Homo sapiens: one gene and its partners. The protein of the gene in region 3 binds, or shares a complex with, the protein of the main gene of each other region. Each region holds a gene or a part of one and is shown on either strand. Other genes may lie near its edges. The genes, in order: USP39, PRPF6, PPIH and SNRPD1.

Region 1 (7,289 bases), on a different chromosome or scaffold from region 3:
CATGTACCTGTAGTCCCAGCTACTCGGGAGGCTGAGGCAGAAGAATCGCTTGAACCCGGGAGGTGGAGGTTGCAGTGAGCTGAGATCACACCACTGCACTCCAGCCTAGGCAACAGAGTGAGACTCCATCTCAAAAAAAAAAAAAAAGTATGTCTCCCCACTTTTTGGAGTTTCTCCTCTCCTAAATGACCTTCCTTTCTCTATACTACCCCAGAGGCAGGCAGAAAGCTGAAAACAGGATATATGAGAAGTACAAGAGGGGGCACTGTGGTTGGGCAGTGGTTCACATCTGTAATCCCAACACTTTGGGAGGTCGAGGTGGGAGGATCCCTTGAGGCCAGGAGTTAAAGAATGGCCTGGGCAACAAAGTGAGCACTCTCTCTACAAAAATACTTAGTTGGATGTGGTGGAGTGTGTCTAGTCCCAGCTACTTAGGATGCTGAGGTGAGAGGATCACTTGAGCCCAGGAGTTTGAGGCTGCAGTGAGCCATGATCACGCCACCATGATCACCCAGACTAGGTGATAAAGCTAGACCCTGTCTCAAAAAATAATAAAAAGGGGCACTATAAGTTAAGAGTTGGGGGTGACCAGTGAGAAATACCAACGAGTCTGGGAGGCTCAATAAAGTCAATATAATTTATAATAAATACGTCACATACATGTGGTGATTCTTACATATAAAATGAAAATGGGCCAGGTGTGGTGGCCCACGCCTGTAATCCCAGCACTTTGGGAGGCGAGGCAGGCTGATCACTTGAGGTCAAGAGTTCGAGACCAACCTGGCCAACATGCTGTCTCTACTAAAAATATAAAAAATTAGCCAGTCATGGTGGCGGATGTCTGTAATCCCAGCTACTAGGAAGGCTGAGGCAGGAGAATCGCTTGAAACTGGGAGGTAGAGATTGCAGTCAGCCGAAATCACGCCACTGCACTCCAGCCTGGGCGACAAGAGCAAAACTCTGTCTTGAAAAAAAAAAAAAAAAGAAAATGAAAAAGTCGAGAGAGCGAGGGTAAGTATAGGCAGGGCAGGTGTGTTAATGGGCTACCTTCTCAGTGATGCCATTGAACTTAGCCAGGATGTTGAAGAGTGGCACTTGGGGAATGATGAGCTGCTCCTTCTCGTCCTTGTAGAGGGGGGCAGTAGGAAGGTCCAGCGTCAGGTACATAAAAGTGGACTCCACCATTGTCTCCTGGTACTCGTCATTATGGAGCAACTGCTCTTTTTCTTCTGCTGGCTAGAAATGAATGAGAAGAAAAGAGAGGAAAGGAGTGTGACGGGTATAGGAACCAACACAGAACCGATGTTTTACCACGCCGACATTTCCTTCATCTGAAAGAACAAAGAGAAGTGCCCGAGAGATTGGGCAGTTTGGCATGCACCACCTGGTTAGATTAACTTAAGAACCAACAGGTTTCCTTCTTTAAAGATATTTTGCTTATATACCAGACTATCTAAAAAGCCCTGAGGCCAAGTGTGATGGCTCACGGCTGTAATCTCAACACTTTGGGAACAAAGGTGAGAGGACTGCTTGAGTCCAGGACTTCCAGACCAGCCTGGGCAACACAGTGAGACTCCATCTCTACAAAAAAAAAAAAAAATTGGCCGGGCATGATGGCTCACACCTGTAATCCCAGCACTTTGGGAGGCCGAGGCAGGTAGATCACCTGAGGTCAGGAGTCCAAGACCAACGTGACCAACACGGAGAAACCCCGTCTCTACTAAAAATACAAAATAAGCCGGGCGTGGTGGTGGCGCCTGTAATCCTAGCTACTCGGGAGGCTGAGGCAGGAGAATCACCTGAACTCGGGAGGCGGAGGTTGCGGTGAGCCGAGATAGTGCCATTGCACTCCAGCCTGGGCAACAAGAGTGAAACTCCGTCTCAATAAAATAAATAAATTAATTAATTAATTAAATTAAACAAAAATAAAAATAAAAATTAGCCCGGTGTGGTGGTGTGTATCTATGGTCCCAGTTTCTGGGGAGGTTGAGGTGGGAGGATCACTTCAGCAAGGGAGGTTGAGGTTGCAGTGAACCATAATCACGCCACCACACTCAGCCTGAGTGACAGAGATCTTGTCTCAAAAAGGAAAAAAAATCCATTAAAAAAAGAAAGTGGGCCGAGCACGGTGGCTCATGTCTGTAATCCCAGCACTTTGGGAGGCCAAGGGAGGTGGATCACCTAAGGTCAGGAGTTTGAGACCATCCTGACCAACATGGTAAAACCTCTTCTCTACTAAAAATAGAAAAATTAGCCAGGCATAGTGGCGCATGCCTGTAATCCCAGCTACTTCGGAGGCTGAGGCAGGAGAATGGTTTGAACCTGGGAGGTGGAGGTTGCAGTGAGCTGAGATCATGCCATTGCACTCCAGACTGGTCAACAAGAGCAAAACTCCATCTCAAAAAAGAAAAGCTCTAAGACCATCTAGGAAGCTTAGCTGAGGGCCAGGCACGGTGACTCACGCCTGTAATCCCAGCACTTTGGGAGGCCGAGGCAGGTAGATCACCTGAGGTCAGGAGTTCGAGACCAGCCTGGACCAACATGGTGAAGCCCCGTCACAACTAAAAATACAAAATTAGCTGGGCGTGGTGGCAAGCGCCTGTAATCACAGCCACTCAGGAGGCTAAGGCAGGAGAATCGCTTGAACCCAGGAGGTAGAGGTTGCAGTGAGCTGAGATGGCGCCACTGCAACTCCAGCCTTGGCGACAGAGGGAGACTAAGAAAAACAAAAAGAAAGCTTAGCTGAGCTTTCTGAAAAAACACAGCAGCACCACCTAGTGGCCAGAACACTTAAACCAGCACAGTACATCCAACCACTAACTCCCAAACTGAAAAAGTGCACTAGTATGACAGGGACCAGGCAGAGCTGCCACTAGGCAGGTGCTTTGTTGAACCTCTTCACAGGGCAAGCAGGCTTGTCAGTTCTCTGAGCATCTCTTCATCTCCCCTACGTCCCCTCAAGCAATATGAATCAGTCCAAGACCCAGGCTCAATTAACTCACCAGATCAGGATGGGGAAGCTTTTTAGTGAAGATCCTCATGGACCCCTGGAAAACATCAGTCACAATAGCTGCACAAACAGGAAGCAAGAGACAAATTCCGTGAGGATGGAAAACATGTCTGAAGTATATTTCCAGCTTCTAAATTTCTGAAATAAACCAGCATCTTCCAGCAAAAGACACAGAGCTCTCACTAAACACAGAAGTTTCCTTTTGTACTATATACCACCAGGGTACCTTTATAATTATTTGTGTAAATAATTACTTTATTTCTCTTAAGACAACTTTTTATCCTCCATCACAGGGCCTGGTCCATAAAAGAAAAGGTAAATGTGTTCAAAATGAAGGAATGGTGATACATGAATTACAAAAAAATTCACAAGCAAAACAAGGTACAGCCAAGGAACTTCCCATAACCATAAGCTACTTTCAAAGGGAGACAATGTCCAAACTGTAATGAAGACAAGAGGACAATGACAGACTAAGAGATGGGCCAGAACAGGATCAAAGCAACAAGAGAGAAAGCACAACCAAGTTCTAGAACCCTGCCAAGACGCAAGTTAGAGAGCTCAGAGGGTTAACACAGGCTGAAGACACCTGGTAGAGAGGGCAGGGCCATCCAGTGGGAAAAGCAACAGGCCACAATCCCACATCAAGACACCATCACATCTATAATCCTAGCACTTTGGGCAGATCACCTGAGGTCAGGAGTTTGAGACCAGCCTGGCCAACATGGAGAAATCCCATCTCTACTAAAAATACAAAAATCAGCTGGGCGTGGTAGTGGGTGCCTGTAATCCCAGCTACCCTTGGGAGACTGAGGGAGAAGAACTGCTTGAACCTGGGAGATGGAGGCTACAGTGAGCTGAGACCGTGCCACTGCATAGCCTAGGTGACAGAGCAAGACTCTGTCTCAAAATATATATATAATAAAATATCATTGGGACTATAACCATATTCTAGCAAAAACTATGGAGAGGGGCCTATTCAGAAAGAACATGTAGTTTATCTATAACATAGATACTAGCCTACCCCAGATAAACAGTTAACAAAAGAATGGGAAGTTGCCTCAGCCTCCCAAGTCGCTGGGACTACAGGCACATCCCACCACACCTGAATAACTTTTGTATTTTTGGTAGAGATGGGGTTTCGCCATGTTGGCCAGGCCGGTCTCAAACTCCTGACCTCAGGTAATCCACCCACCTCGGCCTCTCAAAGAGCTGGGATTATAGGCATGAGCCATTGCGACCGACCGCAAAGTTTTTTAAAAGGGAACAAAATAACTCCTTTTTATAAGTAAATGACTTACTCTTCTTTTTCTTCTTTGTGCCCCCCAGAGCTGAGTGCAGAGCATTCAGAAACCAAGACAGAAAGTCAACGCCATCTCCTGGAAAAAAAGGAAGGGTGGAAAACGTTGAAGCTAAGTGGCATTAGAGTTAACTTAAACCATGCACTGGTTGGCATTCCTGGTTCTCCCCCTTCCTCTCTGGCCATGCCATCCCATCCCAACTGCCGTGCATCCTCCTCTATCTTATCATTAAATGCTGGCACTCCTCAAGGTCAAGCTCTCACTCCTCCGATCTTGACTCTCTCCATAGGCTCTCTGATTCATACCAGGACTGTATCGCATCACTCAGTGATGACCAAAACAAATGAATATGACCTTTTAACATCCACTTTTCTCCAGAGTGAGCTCAAACTTCCTTCTTCCCTTCTGCAGCTCATGAAGATTCCTGTCTTTTAGGAAAGTGACTAGCACCCAGACTGAAAAGGCATACAGAACAAGGGGTTCTGAAAGCAGATTGACAATATTCCATGAAAATGCTGTCTACGGAACCTGCCACTCAGACATTTCAGGGATAGTGGCTACTTTTTTTTTTGAGACAGAGTCTCACTCTGTCGCCCAGGCTGGAGTGCAGTGGCATGATCTCAGCTCACTGCAACCTCCGCCTCCTGGGTTCAAGCGATTCTCCCACCTCAGTCTCCTGAGTAGCTGGGATTACAGGTGCCTGCTACCATGCCCAGCTAATTTTTGTATTTTTAGTAGAGACGGGGCTTCACCATGTTGGCCAGGCCGGTCTCGAACTCTTGACCTCAAGTGATCCTCCCGCCTCAGCCTCCCAAAGTACTGGGATTACAGGCATGAGCCACTGCGCCCAGCCAGATAATGACTACTTTCTCTTCAACGAAGATTTGCTTCTATTTAGTTCCTCTTTGCTCACGCAATTAAAATCTCAAAGACTATAGTATATCTTCCTCAACTTCATTTCCCTAAACCCAGAGGCCTCTAACAACTCCATAGAATGATTTTCTTTTTATTCCCTGTACACAGAATGCTCTTATGTAACAAACTACCACAGCAAGAAACACTTCACACATCTAAACACTCGGCAACTAATAACCTACTAGGTCTCAGAGATGGAGGAAATTATGTTTATGTGACATCATAACTATCCTAGCCAATAGTGGCTATGACAGAAGAAACTAGACACGTTGATTCTCAGGGTACCCTGGTTTTTCTGCAACTCTACAACCCAATTATGCCCTAACTTTCCAAGCTGCCAAAAGCTGACAGGCCCCACTATCCACCTTCAGGCCATAAGTCACCTGTGGAACACAGTGAATGCTGACACTCATCCATCCATTCATGGTCCACAAAAAAATCATTCTCAACACAAATTTCTTCCTTTCTTGCAGCCTTAATATAAAACCCTGGGAGCTCAGGGAGTTGGTCCAGAAACAGAAATGTCTCTATAAACACAAGATAACCTAGCCACCTAGTTCTTGGGAATTAGATGGTCCTACAAAGCACACAAACAGGCTGTCACCTGTTTAGAAGGGTGAGGCACCCAGATTTTTTCTTCGCGACACAGCGTCTCACTCTGTCACCCAGGCTGGAGTGCAGTGATGCAACTTCAGCTCACTGCAAGCTCTGCCTCCCAGGCCCAAGGAATCCTTCCACCTCAGTTTCCCAAGTAGCTGGGACTACAGGCGTGTGCCATCATGCCCGGCTAACTTTTACATTTTTTGTCGAGAGGGAGTCTCACTATGTTCCTCAAGCTGGTCTTGAACTCTTGGGCTCAAGCAATCCTCCCACTTCGGCCTCCCAAAGTGCTGGGATTACAGGCATGAGCCAGCGCGCCTGGCCCCAGATTAAGATTTCATTGGCCATGTTGTAACCAACCCGAAGTGTATCTTATTTCCTACTAACCCTGAAACAAGTGCTCCATGGGCCCCATTCCTTACCACCTTGATTCCTCCTATTTCTCCTTAAGTACCAGAGACTCTTAAAAGCCACTACTCGGCCGGGCGTGGTGGCTCACGCCTGTAATCCCAGCACTTTGGGAGGCCGAGGCGGACGGATCACGAGGTCAGGAGATCGAGACCATCCCGGCTAAAACGGTGAAACCCCGTCTCTACTAAAAATACAAAAAATTAGCCGGGCGTAGTGGCGGGCGCCTGTAGTCCCAGCTACTTGGGAGGCTGAGGCAGGAGAATGGCGTGAACCCGGGAGGCGGAGCTTGCAGTGAGCCGAGATCCCGCCACTGCACTCCAGCCTGGGCAACAGAGCGAGACTCTGTCTCAAAAAAAAAAAAAAAAAAAAAAAAGCCACTACTCGACGTCCCCTCTAAGTCAATCCTCAGCCAGAATAATGTTTTTCTTTTTATTTTACAGACAGAGGTCTCACTCTGTTGTCCAGGCTGGAGTACAGTGGGACCAACATGGCTCACTGAAGCCTCTACCTCCTAGGCCCAAGCGATCCTCCAACCTCAGCCTCTCAAGTAGCTGGACTACAGGTACATGCCACCATGCCTGGGTAATTTTTAAAAATTTTTTGTAGATATAGGGTCTATGTCACGCAGGATGGTCTCTAACTCCTGGGCTCAAGCAATCCACCCACCTTGATCTCCCAAAGTGGTGGGATTACAGGTTTGAGTGACCATGCCCAGCTGGAATAATGTTTTAAAAACAAATTCATAAGTCTGATGTCACATCTTTGTTAAAAGCCTTCAATGAGGCCGGGCATGGTGGTTCACACCTGTAATCCCAGCACTTTGGGAGGCCGAGGCGGGTGGATCACCTGAGGTGAGGAGTTCGATACCAGCCTGACCAACGTGGTGAAACTCCGTCTCTACTAAAAATACCAAAAAATTAGCCAGGTATGGTGGTGGGTGCCTGTAGTCCCAGCTACTCGGGAGGCTGAGGCGGCAGAATAGCTTGAACTGGGGAGACAGAGGTTGCAGTGAGCCGAGATCACACCACTGCACTCCAGCTTGGGCAACAGAGTGA
Region 2 (7,108 bases), on a different chromosome or scaffold from region 3:
GAGACAGAGTCTCGCACTCTCGCCAAGGCTGGAGTGCAGTGGCGCAATCTTGGCTCACCGCAACCTCCGCCTCCCGGGTTCACAGCATTCTTCTGCCTCAGCCTCCCGAGTAGCTGGGACTACAGGCACATGCCACCATGCCCGGCTAATTTTTGTGTAGTTTTAGTAGAGACGGGGTTTCACCATGTTAAACAGGATGGTCTCGATATCCTGGCCTCATGATCCGCCCACCTCGGCCTCCAAAAGTGCCAGGATTATAGGTGTGAGCTACCGCACCTGGCCTCAAAACTAAAATTATTTTTAAAAATTTTCCTCAGAGGAAAAATGTCATCTGTTAGAAGACAGTTAATCGGTATTCAGTCAGCTGAAGTTTTTCTTTAGATGTCTGTTTAGAGGGCAATCACTAAAGCTAAAAAAAGCAAATACTATCACCAATTCCACTTTAAGTTTTTATCATTAAAGACTGGCAGCCAGGCGCAGTGGCTCACGCCTGTAATCCCAACACTTTGGGAAGCCGAAGCGTGCGGACAACCTGAAGTCAGGAGTTCGAGACCAGCCTGACCAACATGGAGAAACCCTGTCTCTACTAAAAATACAAAATTAGCCAGGCATGGTGGCGCATGCCTGTAATCCCAGTTACTTGGAGACTGAGGCAGGAGAATCGCTTGAAATGGGGAGGCAGAGGTCACAGTGAGCTGAGATCACACCACTGCACTCCAGCCTGGCCAACAAGAGCGAAAGTCCGTCTCAAAAAAAAAAAAAAAAAAAGACTGGCCAATAGGAAATGCCAAGGCAGTGGTCCTAACACCTGCAAGAACATCTCTTCCGACAAGAGCGAAATTCCATCTCAAAAAAAAAAGACTGGCCAATAGGAAATGCCAAGGCAGTGGTCCTAACACCTGCAAGAACATCTCTTCCGACAAGAGCGAAATTCCGTCTCAAAAAAAAAAAAGACTGGGCAATAGAAAATGCCAAGGCAGTGGTCCTAACACCTGCAAGAACATCTCTTCTGAGGGACAAAAAGTGCACATTTCTCCGTGTTTTTCCTGCTCCCTCTCACTCTCAGTAAAGATGTTCCATGAATAGCTAAAATTTAAATGCATGAGCCACTCCAAGCCATTCATTACAGACACCAACACACACTGGTTAGGTCAGCTGCTCCCAGAGACTGGCTGGAGGAGCCACGAAAGCCGGACACATCTCACCTCATCGTAATTGGTGTCATTTAGATCCTCGTCGTCATCGTCAGCAGCCTGATTTTTCTTCATCTGGTCCCCAACGGTTCTCTTGCCTGGGGGTGCATGGCGATCATCCACAGGGTCATTTGCATCACGGGCGGGCCCAATGTCTGACCGCGTGGTGAAGCCAGTGGCGCTGCAGGAGACCCCCAAGACACCGGGTGTCTGAATAACTCTGTTCCTGTGCTCTTCTCCACTCCTGGTTATCACTTACTAACACCTCTTTTTCTAACACCTTTGGGAAACCTCCAAAGATCCTGGTGACAATGAACTGCAGTCTCAAACACTTCTGATCTTCTCTGCTTACCTGAAAGTTTCAGCCTACCCTGATGATGTTACCAAGGCAATCTCTCTCCACCCTAAGGCTTCGATCATCTCCCCCTCCACATCCAACCAGGCCCTTAAACCCAACTTGGCCCACACTGAGCTCTTCCGTGCCCACCTTACAGCTGCTCTGGGGGGTTTCAGCTGATAACAGCTGTCCCAGATGCCACGGGACCATGATGTAATTTTTGCCTCCCTCTCCCACTTTCCCCATCCTGTCTGTCCCCAAGTACTAATGAATCCACTTTCAAAATCCCTCCTTCCCAGACTATGACTCCCATCACAGCTGGAAACCAAGTTACCTCTCCCTGCCTTTAGCCTTCCTCTACTTCAACCCATGCTCTGCCAGATGATTCTTCCCAAAACACAGCTCTGAGTAAAAAATTCTGGGCCGGGCGTGGTGGCTCACGCCTGTAATCCCAGCACTTTGGGAGACGGAGGCGGGTGGATCATGAGGTCAGGAGTTCAAGACCCCCCTGGCCAACATGGTGAAACCCTGTCTCTACTAAAAATACAAAAATTAGCCGGGCGTGGTAGCGGGCACCTATAATCCCAGCTACTCAGGAGGCTGAGGCAGAGAACTGCTTGAACCCGGGGGGCAGAGATTGCAGGGAGCTGAGATCGCACCATTGCACTCCAGCTTGGGCGACAGAACAAGACTTTGTCTCAAAAAATAATAATAATAATAATAATTCTGAAGGGTCATGATCTTTCTAACGTCTCCAGGAGCTCTAGCCTGACGCTCAAGGCCCCTCCAACCTCCTGAGCTCTATTCTATTCGCTGTACATTCCACTCACACTGGACTCCCTCCTGTTCCCTGGGCTTCCTCCTTGCCTCACTTTTTTTGAACTCCCACACGCAGAATGTCAGTTTCTCTTCTATCGTCACCGTTTCTACAGCCCTAAGTCCAGCTCTCTTACTAAACTTGGCTCCAATGCTACTCTCCATTAAGCACTGGGTTCTAAATCTGGTCCTCTTTACGTACTTATTTATGGTAATAGCAAACCCTCCTTAGTGAGCTTGTGTGTGCCCCACAGATTCCAATATAATACCACCACCAAGAAAAACCCAGTAGTGTTCCTCATCAAATGAATAGCCAAATAGGATAATAACGACTGCTCACTTATCCAGCAACGCACGGTGGTCATCTGTGTTGCAGGCATAGAGGACCCAGGCACGCTTAAGGCGGGGCGGGCGGGCGGGCGGGGGGGGGGAGTGTCAGCCCGACCTGAGGAAGGTGGTCGCGTGTTTCCACTACACGTCAGATTCCTCTACTCCTCACTGCAGACCGTATACAGCATTACCCATCTTACAGACCAAAACACTGGGCTGAGAGTCAATGTGTCACATCTAGGCGGCAAGCAGGGTGCACACACAGGTATGTCCTGACCCCAAAGCCCGTTGCTTCCTGCAGGGATTAAGCCGATCCACCAAGCGTCTTTCAGACTGCGCGGCCATAGACCCCCGCCCCCAAACACGCCCCAAAGCACTGCGCTCCTGTAGCCGGGTCCCCGCCCCTCGCGCGCCGCCCCAGGCCTCACCCCCGGCCCAGCCCCGGCACGTAGCCGAGGGGCGCGGGCATCCCTAGGAACGGTTTCTTCTTCTTGTTCATGGTGGCGGCGACGACCAAGGCTAGGAAGGAAAGGAATGAGGCAGCGGAAGAGGGAAAGACGCAGAGACTCTAGGCTTCGACGTCCGATGCACTCCGTAGCAAAGTGTCGCCGTCGTCGCGTCACCCGCGCCCCGGAAGCAGAGCGCTCAGTCCGCACACGCCCCGCCCACTTTTGATTCCCTGGGCGGAAGTCCCGACGTCCTGGTTCGACGACTTCCGGCCGCGGCTAGGGGGCAGGAACGTGGTAGGCGCGTGCGCGGGAGCGCCTCCTCGTGGAGAGGCGGAAGAAGCTAGGTCGAGCTTGCACTGGGACCCTAACTGGCCCCTGGGGGCTAAAAACAGCCTGGGGCATTGCTGCTTCCCGAGTGCTCTGATGCAGTCCGGAGACCTGTCTGTGAGAGTGGGACCCATGGTCCCCTCCCTCTGAACCCATGGCCCCCTCCCTCTGAACCAGCCCAGCTGCCCGCCCTCGCCCCTGGTGCGCCCTGTCCGAGCAGAGCTGTACCCTGTCCAGTTGTGTAGAGCTTGTGTGTACTGGTTATGGGCACACCTGTCTGTGTGCGTCCTGTGCGCACACTGCTGCCCTACGCTTTTAGCACTCATATTCTTGAACCCCCATTCAGGCATCTGTCCCTCCAGTGGGACTAGAGACCCCACCCACGCCCGCCAACATGCCTTGGACATTCTGGTGAGGGCCACATCCTTAGCTCCTGGAGAGCTAATTGACGAAATAAATAACCGCAGCTGAGCTGTCGGGAACACGTCAGTACATGAACATGGCTGTCAAGCATGTGGGTGAATTCTGTGTGTGTGATTAGTGGGGTGTGTGCACAGAGGTCACGTGTGCTCGTGTTTTGGGTGCAAGTGCATGACTGTACTCTGTGCATGCATTTCTACATGTCTGTGTGCATCTCTGGTCCTCCTGCTGTAAGACATCCTCCAGAGCCCCTACATACACCCAGGGAGAGCACCCAGGCTCCTGGGCAGAGCAAGCCGAATAGCTGGTTGCAAGCCTGGCCTGCTGCTGCACCAGGCAACCACAGTTCCCTAGCCCAGCCCCATCTCAGCACTTCTCACTGGAGTCCTGGAGCAAACACACCGCTCCGGCCTGCTACAGCCTCCTTGGAGTTCCCCTCTGCCCCATCTCCAGGCAAGCCAAGCCCCTTTCAGTTACAGAGCACTGTACCGCCCCCTCTCCCCCGGGCACTGAGCCAGGTTCTGGGGCTGCAGAGGGAAGGGAGAACCACCCTGATGTTCACAGTGGGGTGGGCGGTAAGCAAGAGTCAAGCTGGTTTCTCCGGGGAAGCGGGTGCCTATTTGAAGGCGAGTAAAGACGTAGGAGACCGAGGAAAGTGTGTGGGAGGCGTTGACCTGCCCCTTGTCCTGGCCCCGGTAGGTAGAAGACCCCTGTGAGATGCCCCTCAGCCCACCCCCACGCACAGAGGGGCCCGACCTCAGAGGACGCCCGGCAGGTTCACGGGGACTCTCCTCCGCGGAGCCGTGCCCAGGGGCGCACGGACGCCCCTCGCCCTGGCGGACAGCCTTGGTGCACGCAGGCCCGCGCGCCGCCGACACACCTCGGAGCTCCCGGAGCGCGCCCGGCACACAGGGCTCGGCGGCAGGTGCCTCGTCGCGCACACTCGCGGGCCGCGGGGACCGGCTCGGGCGCGGGGCCGGCTGGGGCGGGGCGGGGCGGCGGCGCGCGTTCCCCGCCGGCCACACCGGCCGCCCTGCACTCGGCGAGGGGCGTGTGCGCGGGCCTGGCACCCGCGGGCCCCATGTTCACCGAGCTGAGGTCCAAGCTGAGCCCCCCGCGTGGCCGCGCCGGGGCCGTGCGCGCGGGCTTCGGGGAGCGCCGGGATGTGGACGGTGAGCGGGGCTGGATTGGGGAGCGGGGATTTCTCGGGCGGGGGTCTCAGGGACCCAGAGGCACGGGGGCGGGGCGGGACCCGGCGGGCTTCGAGCGGCGGTGGCTGGGGGTATTCGGCGGATGTCTCGGCTCAACGGGGTCCCGTAGCCTTTGTCCTGCTTTAGGGGGCAGCCAGCCTCAGGCCTTGGGGGTCAGCGCGCCCTTGGCTTGGGGTGAGGGGGTGTCAAGCCGGGGCGCCTGTGTCCAGGCTGGCACTACGCTCGGGTCACCTTTTCCTGCGCACGGGGAAAACCCTCCCCCGCTTTTGCAGTGGGGCCGAAAGGGGGCCGAGGTCACATCCCGCCTCGGTGCCCCCGCCCCATTTCCTTCTGGAATCCTGACGTTGGGGCGGGAGGGACCGGACCGACAGACCGCGGGACGGACGGAACTCCCTCCGGGAGTGCAGGCAGGAAATGGGCGGAGCCTGCTTGGCCGGGGCAGGTGCCGTGCGGGCTGAGGAGTCCGACGGGTTTCCCCGGACTGCCGCGCGCTTCTGCACCAGCCCCGCCGCTCGAGGCCCTGCAAAGCCCGGCGACCACGGCGCCTGTCCGCTGGAAGGCGCGGGCTTAGAATAAGCCTTTTCCCACAGCACTAGGGGCCACCTCGGGGCGGTGGCCCACTGAGCACACCCTCTGCTGACCCCAGACCTCAAATTTGGAGTCACCCAGGGGTCCGGTTCCTGAAAGTTGCAAGAATGGGGGCGGAAGGTGTTATGTCTCCTAAGTCTTACAGGCGTGGGAGGACGGGGAAGTAGGATGTGGTTTTCACCGATACTTAGACCTCCTAGACACATCCCCAACCCCTGCCCTGGGTGTGGAGTGGGTGGCTGAGTCTGAGGCCGGGAGGGTCTCTCACTCTAGGGTGGATGGGATGAGGGCCCTAGCGTGGGAACCTCACCTGCCCTGCTGAAGGCCTGGGTGCTAGGGTGCTGTAAAGACAGGGGCAGGCCTGTGCCCACCTTCTGTCTCCCCACAGGCTCTGTTCACTTGCAGATACCATACAGAGCCTTCATTCATTCATTCATTGACAATGAATGTGGGGTGCCCCTCTGTAACCAGACCTGGATCAAGACGCCTGCCTCCCCAGACTCAGGTCAGCAGTGCCCCCAGAGATGATGACAAAGCTCAGATGAAACACTTTAATGCAGTTACTGTGGGAAGAGGGAGCACAGAGCATCACCGTGGGTCCCCAAGCAATGGCTGCACCCCACATACCTGTGCTGACCCGCCCATATCCAATGGGTACCCACCATTCACATGGCCGGTGTTGTCCCGGGCTGCAGGCCCTGTGGGGGGCGGCACAGCTGGAGAGCCCAGCGCGTGTTTGCGGAGTGAGCCCTGCTTGTCAGTTGGCCCACAGTTCAGGCTGTCAATGAGTCATAGTCAGTGAGTCGGGCCCCAACACCAGATAGGGCTGTGTGAACTGGGTGCCTTCAGTGGCGATGGGCAAGCAGCATCCTCAGCCCGGTTTCCCCAGCACAGACGACCTCCCCGGACTCGGGATCTGCCTTTCCTCAAAGCAGGCCGTGTGTGCACTTCCTGGTCTGGTGTGGTGTGTGCAAGACTTGTGGGCCAGCCCAAGGCAAGGGTGAGGTCAGGGCTGTCCCAGGATAGCTCCTCTTGTCATATGTCTCAGGTTCCCTTCCCTAGAGGGCACATCCTCTGATCTAAGAATCCATCCTGCTCCCCTGGGTGAGGGCTGTAGACTTGCAAGATGAAAGGTGTTTCCAGTTCTTCTCTTTTTGTGCTGGGTGAGGTCCTCGAAACAGGTCCTGCACACTTCCTTCTGCCTTTGGAGGCTTGGGAACCCCTCATTGGGGAGGTGATTTCCCGCACTAGTGTGGAGGAGATGGGGCAGGGAGCTAGCTCTCAAGTAGAGGAAGCCTCTGGTTCTGCCCTTGACTGCCCTGACCAGGCACCCCCACACACAGCCACTGCCCACTTCAGCTTCTGCCGGACCCTCCTGGAGCACACGGTGTCAGCTGAGAGCATCCCCTGCCACTTGCCTCGGACACCTGGCACCAG
Region 3 (7,289 bases):
TTTTAAGCTACAAAAGTTACTTTTGGGACAATTGGGGAGGTTTGAAAATGTACTATATATTAGATAATATTGTGGTTACGTAGGATGTTCTTATTTTTAGGAGTTCCTTGCTGAAATACTTAGGGGTAAAGTGTCAAGAAGTCTGCAACTTTCAAATGGGAAAGAGAAGAAGAAAGGGTAAAGGAAGGAAGATGGGAAGAAAGGAAGGAAAGGATGGAGGGAGGGAAGAGGAGCAGGAGGGAGGAGGAGAGGCAATGGAAATGGGTGAGGAGGCAAGAAGGGAAAGAAAAAAACAAATGTCAAGGCAAAGCAATAAAACAAGAATGTTAATCATTGGTGAATCTAAGTGAAGATATATTGGTGTTCAAGGTATTATCTTCTAACTTTTTTGCAGGTTTGAAAATAAAAAAAAAAGAAAAACAAAACATCACTACCCCTCACCTGGCTGGAAGTGATGGATTTCTCCCTTGTACTCTTCTCATACTTGGCAATGTCACTCATATTACTAGTGATCACCTCTGGGAATGTCTTACTTTCCATGAGCTCCTGAAAGGAGACATCTTTCAATTCTTTGTCCCCCTCTCTGCAGCTAGCATGCTGCCCAGCGCAGAGCAGGCAGTGGTAATTACGGGTAAGAAATGAGTCCATGTAGGCTGGAAGATGCAAGGCATTCACCTATGAGGCCAGCGAATATGAAGTCGAGGCCTGGAATTGCAGTATCAGTTCTGATGAGAGGCATGACAGGTGTGTCTCCTGGCTGCCTGGCCTGGTCCCAGCAGAGAGTTACTCAGGCCTGGAGCCAGGTCTTTCTAGGGGGACTACTGAATGGAACTGTAGTCTGAGAGTGCTGTTACAAACTGCCTGAGTAGTTTTCACATTGATACTTTGTACATTACAAAGTGATAGAAAAGTAAAGTGCTCCTACAACCCTTTCTCTTTTTATTTTTACAGTGACTCTGAGAGATAGGTATTACAGTATTTCCATTTGACAGATGAGGAAATGTGCTCAGAGAAGGAAAGTGACTACTCCAAGGCCATACACGGAGGAACTGGGCTCAATCTCATGTCTTCAAGACTAAAGTTCTTTCCACTAGACCATGCTGCCTTCTCTGAGGTCTGATTCCTAACCTAATAGGAGAAAGACACACTTACCTGATTCAGTCTTTGTCTGGACTACATCTCCCCACACTGCGAGATCACCACAGGTAGCTTGGGCTTATTGTTGGGGCCTGTGGGAACATTCTAGGAAAAAAAGCACAATGGAGATTCATCCACTCAGGCACTTCCTCGTTCCCTTATCAAACTTTTACTGATGCCTGCCAGCCCTGTGCTAAGGACTCAGCACTCAGAAACAGTCCATGTCCTGGCAGACAGGTAAAGCATATAATACCTATCAAAGAGAAAATGCAAAACACTTAGAAAATATCAAACTTATGATTATATAAGAAAAAGTTATAAGAGAGAATTGGATAAGGGTTAGATAGGCAACTAAATTGGGGCTTAAAGAGGTCAGGGAAGGATTCACAAAAGAGGGGTATTTGAACTGTGCCTAGAAGGATGAATGGGATTCCATCAGGAGGGAAGGAAAGAAGAGCATTCCGGCTAGAGGAAACTGTGTGAGCAAAGGCTCAGGGGCAGGAAAGAGCAAGCAGCAGGGACATGCATGGCAGATTTAGAGAAGAGCTAGTAGCCTGATGTGACTGGAACATGGAAGAGGCAATGGCAGAAGAAGGGGCCATGGAGAGGTAGACAGGGACTAATCATGAAGGACCTTGAACGCAATGCTGAGGAGTAGAATTTTATCAAGTAGGCAACAGGATCATCAGAGGCCAAACCTCAGTGTTGGCCAGACAGGCTAACTTAGGTGGTTCTCTTCCCTTTTCCTGGGGCAATGAAGACAGCCTAACAAACTGGAGCTCATTCCCCCTTCTCTAGCTCCTGCACGCTAGTCAGACAGTACCAGACCACAATGGCAGAGAAACAGAAAAATCAAAGCAGTACTTACCTCAATCTTTCTCATCACTAGAAGTCCATCGATGATTTTTCCTGTAGGAAGAGCATGAGCTGGACTTTATTCTTGTTTACATAGCATTTTCCAGCTTCCAAAGCCCATTCTTAGCTATTTTCTCATTAAACCCTCATACTAACTTTAGGAAATTAAGATGCGGTAGAGGTGAAATGACTTGCTCAAGGTCATAGGTAATAAGTAGAGTTAGGGCTCAAACTTATACCTGAGTGACTCCAAAGTCTCACCGTATCATGCTGCCTCTATGGCATTTCTTTGGTGCTAGCAACTGGGTTTTCTCCCTAAGTGGTTCCATACTATATCAAATGGTCCTTTTGTCCTTCCCTCTAGTTCTCTAGCCACACATGTTCCCCACCTCCCCACCATTTCTGTTTTCTCTATTACCACCTAAGCAGTTACACAGGTTGAGCTTTCTTGGTAAGAGTTTGAGAACTAACTCCTCTGGAGGTTCCATCCAGGGTGAATGGGGCCTGGACCATGAGACAGGAGTAGGACTTACCAAACACCACATGCTTCCCATCCAGCCAATCGCACTTAGAGCAGGTGATAAAGAACTGACAGCCATTTGTACTTGGACCACTGTTCGCCTGATGGAAACCAAATATACCTGCAGTAAGTTTCCCCGGCCATGTTAGCTGAAGGGCAAGATTTCCAAAAGAGCTTGTAACACTGATTCCTCTATGGTTTTTTTCAGTAAATCTAACTTAGCACCTATTATGAGCCAGGGCCTAAGCTAGGATCCAAGGATACAGAGATGAACAGGATATGGCTCACTGCAGCCTCAAACTCCTGGGCTCAAGCAATCCTCCCCACCTCAGCCTCCCTAGTAGATGGGACTACAGGTGTGTGTCACCACACCTGGCTAATTTTTTTTTTCTTTTTTAAGTAGAGACTAAGTCTCACTATGTTGCCCAGATTGTTCAAACTCCTGACCTCAACCTCAAGCAATCCTCTTGCTTCGGCCTCCCCAAAGTGCTGGGATTACAGGTGTGAGCCACCACACCCAGCTATGAATATGTCTTGAAAGCACAACTGTTTACATTCTGAGCAGTAGGGCTGAATGCCCAGACACAAATCCTGGTTCAGATTTTAGTTCCCCAGCCTGCTAGCCTGCTAGTGGGCCTTACCTACTGGTTTTCTTTTCTTTCTTTTCTTTGTTTTAAGATGGAGTTTCGCTCTTGTTGCCCAGGCTGGAGTGCAGTGGGGCAATCTCAGCTCACTGCAACTTCCCCGTCCTGGGTTCAAGCGATTCTCCTGCCTCAGCCTCCCGAGTAGATGGGATTACAGGCACCCACCACCACACCTGGCTAATTTTTTGTATTTTTAGTAGAGATGGGGTTTCACCATGTTGGCCAGGCTGGTCTCGAACTGCTGACCTCAGGTTATCCACCTGCCTCAGCCTCCCAAAGTGCTGGGATTACAGGCGTGAGCCAGCATACCTACTGGTTTTCTCAGTCAAACCAGACTAAGAAAGGAGGTGGTAAAGGTGAGTCCTGGGCCAAGCAAGAGAAGGAAAGCATTTGCTTCCATCCCAAGAGACAGCACTGGGCCTCAAGAGGGGCCCAGGAACCAGCTGGCTATAACCCAAAACCTTGATTGGACCTCACTTACCATGGAAAGCAGGCCTGGAGCTGAGTGTCTAAGTTTAAAATTTTCATCTGCAAATGGCCCCCGGTAAATACTGGCGACTCCAGTACCATCTCCCTGAGCAGAGAGAAGGGAAGTATTAGTGACTTGGAGTGTTGGGTCCCTGGAAACCGGAGGAAGAACACTGTCGCACCTAAAGCATGACATCTTTAAAGTCTACTCTTACTCTTGTTGGTCATCTTGGAAGCTGCACCTATTTGACCCCACCCTGCAATCAGATCAAGCCTTATATAAGGTACCTACAGCCCACAAAGACTGGCTGGAGCATTTTATAGACTGGATAAAAGAGGTCACAGCTGGGCCTCTAGAACGATCAATTAAGATGCAGACAAAGTAGGGAACAGCAACAAGGTGATCACATACTCAATCCTTGCCATTCCTGAAGACTCTCATGCCTTCAGTCACATAAAAGTACCCACTTAAGTGACTACCACCCCATTCCCCTAAACTATCTAAGAGGGTGGGTGAGCTCTTGGCAGTCTGTATGTACAACATGATACCACCCTCCTGGTCATAGTTGATTGATCTAGGGAAGGATGCCTAACTCACTCTGGGCCAACTAGAGTTCCTTCTCTGGGAATCTGGAGGTGGGATAGATGCTCTCTTTGAGGCTAAATTTGTAACATGTAAACCTGAAAGCTGGATGTGACTACCATTTGCAAGCTGGGCTAGAGAACAGAGAGAGAACACAACACAGATGTGTAGCGAGCACTAGAGAAACGGAGATAAAGAACTGCCTTGGTTCTCTATGGTTCTAGTTCCTAGTTCTATTTCTTCCTTTAGTTCCATGAAACACTCCCTTTATTATAAACTCCCAATTTCTGCTTAAACTAGCTTTATTTGCATTATCTCCTTGCTCTTCCAGCAACCTTGAGGAATAAGCATTATCATCTTCCCCATTTTTCATGTGAGGAAACTGAAGTCTGGGTAATAAAACAATTTGACCAAGGCCATATTTGCAGTGCCTTAAATAGAATCCCTGAGTTTTAAAGGCAATATTGAGGAGTGCCAAAAAGATCAAGCTCTCCTCGCCAGTTAGTAAAGAGAAAGAGTACATGGGAGAAAGGGAAAACACTGACCCAGTGAGGAATCAAGGGTCCCTTTTTGGAAAAGAACTACCATTAATATAAGCCAGAGAATAAAGAAAAACTGTCCAAATTCAAACCTTTGTTTGCCTAAATATTATAAAATAAAATCAAGTCTGTATATTAGAAAGACCTGGCCTGGTGTGGTGGCTCACACCTGTAATCCCATCACTTTGGGAGGCTGAGGCGGGTGGATCACCTGAAGTCAGGAGTTTGAGACCAGCCTGGCCAACATGGTGAGACCCCATCTCTACTAAAAATACAAAAATTAGCCACGTGTGGTGGTGGTACCTGTAATCCCAGCTACTCGGGAGGCTGAGGCACGAGAATCGCTTGAACCCACCCGGGAGGTGGAGGTTGCAGTAAGCCAAGATCGCACCACTGCACCCCAGCCTGGGCGACAGAGCGAGACTCCATCTAAAAAAAAAAAAGATCTGAATTTGAGTTCCAGATCTATCACTTAGAGCTGGGAAAGTCACTTCCAATCTGTGAGCCTCAATTTCCTCATCTATCAAGTGAGGATGAAATTACCTACTCTTTACAGTTATCATGAAGATTCAATTAGATAGTGTCTGTAAAAAGCACTGTACAAACAATATAGTACTATATAAATAATCAAATAAGCTAATATGTCATTAACTAACTACACATACATATTAATACAGAAGGAAGAGAGAAAACAAGTTCATCTCCAATTTCCCAGTGAACCTAAGGGACACATCAGTTACCGTGCCATTCTCCGTAATCACGTTATCTATAGCTCTCCAGAAACAATAGGGAAAATTACAAAATTAATAATTTGGAGCAAACAATAGAAAGCAACTTATCTTCAACTATAGTGAATTGATCAAATAACTTGTCTATTCATAATGAAATATTAGGTGGCTATTAGAAAGCATGTTTTAGAAGACATAACGACAAGGGAAAATATGGACAATTATGAAGTACAAAAAAAGTAAAACATATAGATTATTTTAAGTCTGTTAAAAATTATATAAACACACATATACATACTAAGGTAAGACTGACAACTGTAAACCAAAATGCCAATAGTATATTGTGAGGTGAGAATGAGGGTAATTCATTTGGTGATTTATTTTCTTCTTTGCACTTTTCTTTTGCAACCAAAATAATAAATACTATTAAAACCAAAAATAAATGAACAAACAAATATTCTTGGTCAAACTTTGGAAGGTCTCAAATTCTGATTTTTCTGACTCTTGCTCATTCCATTTTGCCTTCCCCAAGGAAGGTTCTAAGCAAGCTTTTTTTTTTTCCCTTTAGACAAGGTCTTGCTCTGTCGCCCAGGCTGGAGTGCAGTGGTATGAACATGGCTCACTGCAGCCTTGAATTGACCTCCTGGGCTCAAGGGATCCTCCTACCTCAGCCTACCAAGTACCTGGGACTACAGGCGCACACCACCAAAAATAAAAAAATAAAAAATAACTTTTCTTATTTTTGTAGAGACAGGGTCTTACTATGTTGCCAAGCTGTTCTCAAACTCCTGGGATCAAGCAATCCTCCCAGCATCCCAAGGTACTGGGATTACAGATGTGAGCCCTACCAGCAATTGCTTTTAACTCGGCCTTCAGACTGAGCAACTATTGTCTAACCCCAGAGTTATCGACAAGTGATCAGATGTGCCTGGGGCAAAGACTAGTAAAAAGCTATTCCTCTCCTTGTAAGGCAACAGGGAAGCCTAGGGGAAAAAAAAGGAAAGAAGGCAGAGGATAGCTTCTCAGCCCTTCTTACCAGCTAACAAACCCTACTACCATTATCTGTTTCCCGGGGCTGCAAACAAATGCCCACAGGAGCAGGCAACGTAAATAAGGGAAACAGTTGTGGAGACTGGTGAAATGGCAAAGATATGCCATGTCCAAAGGGACCAGTTCCTTGATTCCAACCAATTGTCACTGTCACTGCCACTGTGAGAAATGCAGGCCCAGCATACTTCCACTTTCCATTTTTTAAAGAGAAAAAAAAACTAGGATTTTTTTGTGCCATTTCACAGTTATACAACACCATGCAGATGAATCAAAACATAGGTAAAAACGTAATTCGGCCTAAAACCTGCCACTCTGCAACCCTGTATTGCATAGGAAAGGAAAGAGGTCTTAAAAACTCATGAGATTCAGACTAAATAAACACATAAAAGAGAACACATGTCTCCCAGATCCAAGAAAACAGCAACACAACTAACCAAATGATATTAATAAGAGTAAAGAAAGACCATTCAGAAGTGGGGGGTAAGGACAAAAGCAGGTTTAAGAAAGAAAAAATGTAGTTTATCCCACACCCTCCAAGGTTGGGGTGGGGAGGGAGGCTTCATATGGGGGACAAAAACAGTCTACTTACAAGAAAGCTATGGTTAGCAAAAAAGAACTATTTCACTGGGCTCTCTCAGTGAATAGAGCAAAATTCCTCCAGAACTATCTACCTCTCTTGCTCTGATTCCTTGCCCACAAATCAACTTCTTATGAAAAACTCAGCTTTCCAGGCACTGTGACACCCAGAAGTAAAAGAGAAAATGA
Region 4 (7,289 bases), on a different chromosome or scaffold from region 3:
GCCTCTGAGCCTATTATGGTTCAGGGGCTACCTGATTTGTGAATTGTCCTTTGCTCAATTAAACTCTGCCAAATTTAATTTGTCTAAGGCTTTTATTTTAACCTTATTCATCATAAAAAGAAAAAGAAAAATTTTAGTTCAAAAACTTAAAACCTGATCAACTAAAAATGAAACTGCCCAGTAGAAATGCTTAGCTCTCACTGTGGTAATTTCGTGAATGTGGAGGAAACTACTAAAACTTTGATATACTAAATAGACAGCTCTGTCCCACATTTATGTTTATTAAAAACTGACATAAACAAACACAACCTGTACAAAAAATATCCCAAATCTCATATGACTTTGAAATCTTGAGAGACATTATCGCCTAGGACCCCCTCTTCCTCTGCCACGGCCACGTCCTCTTCCTCTTCCTCTTCCTCTGCCTCTTCCTGCAACTGAAGGAAAAGAAAAACAAACCAAGTTCAATTCTCTCCTGCACCAATGTTACCTAGACACCACAAACAACATTTACACACACACCTTTCCCTGTTTATAGCTCTTTATTAGTAGCTACAGTAAATAAAGTTTAACTAGCTTCTGTTAAATGTGTTAGACTTCAGATTCCCTCCACCCCCCAACACATTATCATGCAGAACCAATAACTAAAGGCCTAGGGAGATTATTATTTGTTTCATTTCAATTTATTTACTAAGAAATGTGTCAAATTTAAAAATACTTTTTCTTTATATCATGTCTCAAATTCACCATAAAATGATTTGAACCTCACAAAAAAAGGGAAGATATATATCACAGAATAAAACATGATCACCTTGATGCCAGAGTTTTGGTAACTGAATAAAATCCAAGCAAGTTAATTCAAAACCAGGAAAGTTTAAATGTATTACATCAAATCACAATCTTATTAACTCTTCAGAAAATTAAAACTCATTTGACCTACACATAATCTAGTGCTTTAATCCAAATAGTAATATCCCTACTGGGTCATCCTAACTCTAGTTGAGTATCATGGTGATAGGGAATTCATGACCCAAATAAACTTATTTCATCTTCAGACAGCTAAGAATATTAGAAAATCTTGACATAGAAGTCAGTCACATTCTAAATGTTTTTGTTTTTGTTTTTTAAATACAGGGTCTCACTCTGTAGTCCCATCTGGAGTGTAATTACACCTCACTGCAGCCTTGAACTCCTGGGCTCAAGTGATCCTCCCATCTAAGCCTCCTGAGTAGCTGGGACTACAGGTACAAACCATCATGTCTGGCTAATTTTTAAAATTTTTGTAGAGATGAGGTCTCCCTTTGTTGCCCAAGCTGCTCTCAAACTCTTGGGCCAAAGCAATCCTCCAGCCTCAGCCTCCCAAAGTGGTGGGATTACAGGTGTGAGCCACCGCACCTGGCCACATTAGAAATTTGTACACACTGATTCTAGTCTTACCATTCTAAGCAATAAATAGTAAGTTTAAGATGCTAATTAAGGGACATTTCACAAAATAACTGGCCCGTACTCTTACAAAGTATCAAGGTCACAAAAGGAAAACTGAGGAGAACCAGCTGATACGCATTAAAGGAAACTAAGGAAACGTACAAGTAAATGCAACCTGTTGTACTGGATTGGATCTTGGACCAGGAAAAGGACATTAAAGGGACAATCAGAGAAATGTGAGAAAGGTCTCTAGATAATACAGTAGTGACACATCAATGTAAAATTTCTAATTTTTTGTAGTTATATGACATTTTAACATTTAGACAATCTTGGTGAAAAGTGTATGGGAATTCCTTGTACTATTTTTGCAACTTTTTGTGTCTAAAATTATTTCAAAATGAAGTGTTTAAAAAAATAAAGAAAATGGGAAAAACAGAGTTGGAGGGGTGTTGTAAAACAACAACAACAACAACAACAAAAGGGCTGGGCACCTGTAATCCCAGCTACTTGGGAGGTTGAGGCAGGAGAACTGCTTGAACCTGGGAGGCAGAGGTTGTAATGAGTGGAGATCGCGCCATGGCACTCCAGCCTGGGCAACAGAGCATGACTCTGTCTCAAAAAAAAAAAAAAAAAAAAAAACCCAAGAAAAGAAAATGGACCAGGTATGATGGTGGCTCACACCTATAATCCCAGCACTTTGGGAGGCCACAGCAGGAGGATTGTTTGAGACCAAGAGTTCAAGACTATCCTGGACAACATAGGGAGACCCTGTCTTTACAAAAAAATAAAAAATAAAAAATTAGCCAGGTTTGGTGGTGCATATCTGTAAAAAAGAAAGATAAATTAAGAAAACAACTGCTCACTGCAATCTCCGCCTCTCGGGTTCAAGCGATTCTCCTGCCTCAGCCTCCCGAGTAGCTGGGACTGCAGGCGCCCACCACCACGCCCAGCTACTTTTTTGTATTTTTAGTAGAGATGGGGTTTTACTCTGTTGGCCAGGCTGGTGATCCACCTGCCTCGGCCTTCCAAAGTGCTGGGGTTACAGGCGTGAGCCACCGCGCCCAGCTGCTGCTTCTTTTTTTTTTTTTTAAAGAAAGAAAATAAATGTTTATTCAAAAAAAAAAAAAATCCAAACATTTGGGAGGCCAACGCAGAAGACAGCCTGAAGCCAGGGGTTTGAGGCTGCAGTGAGCTATGATCATGCCACTTCACTGCAGCCTGAGCAACACAGTGAGATCTTGTCTCTTACCAAACAAACAACAAACAAAACAATTTTTTTTTTTTTTTTGAGACCAAGTCTCTCTCTGTTGTCCAGGCTGGAGTGCAGTAGTGCGATCTCGGGTCACTACAACCTCTGCCTCCCAGGTTCGAGCAATTCCCTGCCTTAGCCTCCCGAGTAGCTGGGATTATAGGTGACCGCCACCACACCTGGCTAATTTTTGTATTTTCAGTAGAAATGGGGTTTCACCATTGGCCAGGCTGGTGTTGAACTCCTGACCTTGTGATCCAGCTGCCTCAGCCTCTGAAAGTGCTGGGATTACAGGCGTGAGCCACCACACCTGGCCCAAACCAATAATTTTTAAATAACTCCCTAACACTAGACTATGACAAACTTGAAACGAAGACTCATTTTCATTATTTAATTTGTTGTAGTTTCCTTTTTTTTTTTTTTTTTTTTTGGCGACAGGGTTTTACTCTGTCACCCAGGCTGGAGTGCAGTGGCGTAATCTCGGCTCACCGGAGCCTCCATTTTCTGGGTTCAAGAAATTCTCCTGCCTCAGCCACCCGAGTAGCTGGGATTACAGGCATCTGCCACCATGCCTGGTTAATTTTTGTATTTTTAGTAGAGACAAAGTTCATGCCATGTTGCCCGGGCTGGTCTCGAACTTCCGAGTTCAGGCGATCTGCCCGCCTCTGCCTCCCAAAGTACTGGGATTACAGGCATGAGCCACCGCACCTGGCCAATTTCAGTTATTTTAAACCGTACTATTTTAAATGTGTACACACAAAAACTGTAAGTCTAGAACACGTTAAAATGGGCCAAATTGACCACACTTACCTTCAATTTCTTCTGAAATAGTATTTATGATAGAAAAGGAACAAAAATGATAACTACCCAGAGGAACAAAGAAAAGCAGAGAAAACACAGTAGATAAAAGATTTTGGGCCAGGCACCGTGGCTCACGCCTGTAATCCCAGCACTTAGGGAGGCCCAGGCAGGCGGATCATGAGGTCAGGAGATCGAGACCGCTTGGCTAACACGGTGAAACCCCGTCTCTACTAAAAATACAAAAAATTAGCCGGGCGTGGTTGCAGGCGCCTGTGGTCCCAGCTACTGGAGAGGCAGAGGCAGGACAATGGTGTGAACCCGGGAAGCGGAGCTTGCAGTGAGCCGAGATCGCGCCACTGCACTCCAGCCTGGGCGACAGAGTGAGAGTCCATCTCAAAAAAAGATTTCGGCTGGGCGCGGTGGTTCCTGCCTGTAATCCCAGCACTTTGGAAGGCCGAGGCGGGTGGATCACTTGAGGTCAGGGGTATGAGACCAGCCTGACCAACAGGATGAAACCCCACCTCTACTAAAAATACAAAATTAGCTGGGTGTGGTGGCACACACCTATAATCCCAGCTACTTGGGAGGCTGAAACAGAAGAATCGCTTGAACCCAGGAGGCAGAGGTTGCAGTGAGCTGAGATCCTGCCACTGCACTCCAGCTTGGCTAACAAGAGCGAAACTCCATCTCAAAAAAAAAAAAAAAAATTTTTTTCAACAAAATTTTAAATAGAAAGTAGACTGGGAACTGTAACATTTAGTAAAGGAAGAATAACTTCTGAAAAATCTAAGATTCAGAAGCGTGGAGTAAGATGATATGAGGCGGGGGGCTTTCAATCATCAATTCCCCGACAGGTAGGTAGGTAGTAAAAAAAAAAATGTAGAATAACCCTAACGACATTAAAGCAAAACATCCTCAGATTTGAAAATACAGCCAGCCTTCAATATCCATGGGTTGCACATCCATGGATTTAACCAACTGAGGATCAAAAATGTAGTTTAGGCCTATGATGGTTGTATCTGTACTAAACACATACAGACTTTTTCTTGTCATTAACGCCTAAACAATACAGTATAACTATCTACAGAGCATTTACATTATACTAGGTATTACAAGTAATCTAGAGATGATTTAAAGGGTACAAAAGGATGTGCACTGAAACACTACTACCATTTTATGAAAAGGGACTTAAGAATCTGTAGATTTTGGTACCCACAGGGGGTTTTTTTAAAGTGGAAAGCAGCATGAGATAAAGGACCGAGAGAGAGATTAAATCATTGTTTTTCAAGCTATGGATTACAATCATATATATATATATATATTTTTTTTTTTTGAGACAAAGTCTCACTCTGTAGCCCAGGCTGGAGTGCAGTGGCGTGATCTTGGCTCACAGCAACCTCCACCTCCCAGGTTCAAGTGATTCGTCTGCCTCAACCTCCCGAGTAACTGGGACTAAAGGCACGCACCACCACGCCTGATTTTTTTTGCATTTTTAGTAGAGAGGGGGTTTCGCCATGTTGACCAGGCTGGTCTGGAACTCCTGGCCTCAGGTGATCTGCCCACCTTGGCCTCCCAAAGTGCTGGGATTACAGGTGTGAGCCACCCTGCCCGACCACATCGATATTTGTTGTTTGGTTTTTTTTTTTTTTGAGACAGTGGCTCTGTCACCCAGGCTGGAGTGCAGTGGTGAGATCTCGGCTCACTGCAACCTCCGCCTACTGGGTTCAAGCGATTCTCCTGCCTCAGCCTCCCGAGTAGCTGGGATTACAGGCACCCGCCACCATGCCCAGCTAAGTTTTATATTTTTAGTAGAGATGAGGCTTCACCATGTTGGCCAGGCTGGTCTTGAACTCCTGACCTCGTGATCCACCCGCCTTGGCCTCCCAAAGTGCTGGGATTATAGGCGTGAGCCACTGCGTCCGGTTGCTCAATGTTTTTAATAGCAACACCAAGAATTACTATACATACTATAGGAAATATTAAACAACAAAGACACTTGTGTTGTTTGCAAATAATATCTATATTATGAATAGTGTGGATTAGGATTAGCATTCACAAAAATGTTTATAATCCTTCAAACTTACCAGCTTCCCTTTTCTTAGATTTCACCTTAGGTTCAACATCCACAAGTAGTGTATCCAGAGGTAAACTGTCTGGTAGAATAAAATACCGAATGTTATTTCCTCGAATACTCAGCGTTTCCAGCTGTACAGGTTCTCTGTTCTTCAGGGTCATTTTCACAGCTTTAAGATGTGTATTCATGCTGACATCCACACCTAAAGAGGAAAATAATTGTGCAGTTATTAGTATGATACAAGTTAAGGCAACTAATTAATCTACTGAGCCACAGTAAATACTGGACTACAAAAGATTACTGTTCTTCTACAAAGTGCAAGTTTTCTATGACACAATTTAGCACATGTGCAACTGGTAAATGGGGGAATGTCAGCAGTGTTTCCTTCCTAGAGATTTTTCCTAGCACACTAATGTTTTGCTTACAGAAGTGAATGCAGCAAGCCATGGAAGAACCCTGACTGGGCTTTAGGCTCACTACTGATGTGACAGGTATTTCTTTCATGTTTCTCCCACTGTCTTTGTAACTTCCTCATAATCCCCATTCCACCAAACTATCCTCACCTTTGTTTCTGCTTCTCTCTGTATATAAGAATTGTTACTGCTTTTGTTAAGATGGATCATGAGGTCAGGAGTTCGAGACCAACCTGGCCAACATGATGAAACCCCGTCTCTACCAAAAATATAAAAAATTAGCTGGGTGTGGTGGCACGCACCCATAACCCCAGCTACTTGGGAGGCTGAGGCAGGAGAATTGCTTCAACCCGGACCCGGGAGGCAGAGGTTGTAGTGACCTGAGATTGTGCCACTGCACTCCAGCCTGGGTAACAGAGTGAGAATCCGTCTAAAAAAAAAATTTACCCGGGCATGGTGGCAGGCACCTGTAGTCCCAGCTACTTGGGAGGCTGAGACAGGAGAATTGCTTGACCCCAGGCGGCGGATGTTGCAGTGAGCTGAGATCGTGCCACTGCACTCCGGCCCAGGTGACAGAGCAAAACTGTTTAAAAAAAAAAAAAAAAAATTACATAATTCAGACAAAAAAAATAAGGATTTGTACTACAATAATGTTCATTAAGCAATAAAAAAATAAACTCTGGCTAGGTAAAAGAGAAGAAAAAAAATGTTATAAAAGCAGTCCAACCTCCGTACCTGTGATTGTTCCATGGACCTGTGTTCCGTTCTTCAATTCAATGGTTACAGTTTCATGACTCAATTTCATCAAAAATCTATAAATAGGAATAAAACCATTTTTACCTGTAACACTTTAAAATCACATTTATTAAGGTGAAAGGGTGAAACAACTCGATGTTGAAAATTTGCTAGATGCTATCTGCATCAATTCCTATCAATAATCTGCATAACAATTTCAGCTTTCCTGAATTATATCCTCAACCTTTATGAAGGAACACAACAATACTAACATAAACTGTCATTTGGACGTTTCTAATTCTCAAACCTGAAATCCAGACATACAAGATCTTAGACTCATTATAAACCATGAAAAAGAAATAGGCCAGGCGTGGTGGCTCACGCCTATAATTCCAGCAGTTTGGGAGGCCAAGGCGGGCGGATCACGAGGTCAGGAGATCGAGATCATCCTGGCTAACATGGTGAAACCCCGTCTCTACTAAAAAATACAAAAAATTAGCTGGGCATGGTGGCGGGCACCTGTAGTCCCAGCTACTCGGGAGGCTGAGGCAGGAGAATGGGGTGAACCTGGGAAGCAGAGCTCTCAGTGAGC

The links.
Region 1: PPIH (region 3) and USP39 share a complex: the UniProt entries of both Homo sapiens proteins name them as parts of the U4/U6-U5 tri-snRNP complex.
Region 2: PPIH (region 3) and PRPF6 share a complex: the UniProt entries of both Homo sapiens proteins name them as parts of the U4/U6-U5 tri-snRNP complex.
Region 4: PPIH (region 3) and SNRPD1 share a complex: the UniProt entries of both Homo sapiens proteins name them as parts of the U4/U6-U5 tri-snRNP complex.

What each region holds. Positions count from the first base shown.
Region 1 is NC_000002.12:85,633,150-85,640,438, reverse strand, and holds part of USP39 (ubiquitin carboxyl-terminal hydrolase 39), read right to left. Parts: intron 4,387-7,289; coding exon 4,309-4,386; intron 3,071-4,308; coding exon 3,003-3,070; intron 1,237-3,002; coding exon 1,048-1,236; intron 1-1,047.
Region 2 is NC_000020.11:63,977,313-63,984,420, reverse strand, and holds the start of PRPF6 (pre-mRNA-processing factor 6), read right to left. Parts: upstream 3,290-7,108; 5' UTR 3,176-3,289; coding exon 3,105-3,175; intron 1,375-3,104; coding exon 1,206-1,374; intron 1-1,205. Other genes in the region: SAMD10 (sterile alpha motif domain-containing protein 10), read left to right, coding at 4,427-4,567, 6,077-6,176, 7,015-7,108. UniProt on the Homo sapiens protein: Involved in pre-mRNA splicing as component of the U4/U6-U5 tri-snRNP complex, one of the building blocks of the spliceosome.
Region 3 is NC_000001.11:42,661,304-42,668,592, reverse strand, and holds part of PPIH (peptidyl-prolyl cis-trans isomerase H), read right to left. Parts: intron 3,731-7,289; coding exon 3,638-3,730; intron 2,614-3,637; coding exon 2,526-2,613; intron 2,047-2,525; coding exon 2,006-2,046; intron 1,243-2,005; coding exon 1,174-1,242; 3' UTR 1,153-1,173; intron 547-1,152; exon of another isoform or gene 442-546; intron 1-441. UniProt on the Homo sapiens protein: PPIase that catalyzes the cis-trans isomerization of proline imidic peptide bonds in oligopeptides and may therefore assist protein folding. Participates in pre-mRNA splicing.
Region 4 is NC_000018.10:21,622,210-21,629,498, reverse strand, and holds part of SNRPD1 (small nuclear ribonucleoprotein Sm D1), read right to left. Parts: intron 6,775-7,289; coding exon 6,698-6,774; intron 5,752-6,697; coding exon 5,560-5,751; intron 438-5,559; coding exon 361-437; 3' UTR 1-360. UniProt on the Homo sapiens protein: Plays a role in pre-mRNA splicing as a core component of the spliceosomal U1, U2, U4 and U5 small nuclear ribonucleoproteins (snRNPs), the building blocks of the spliceosome.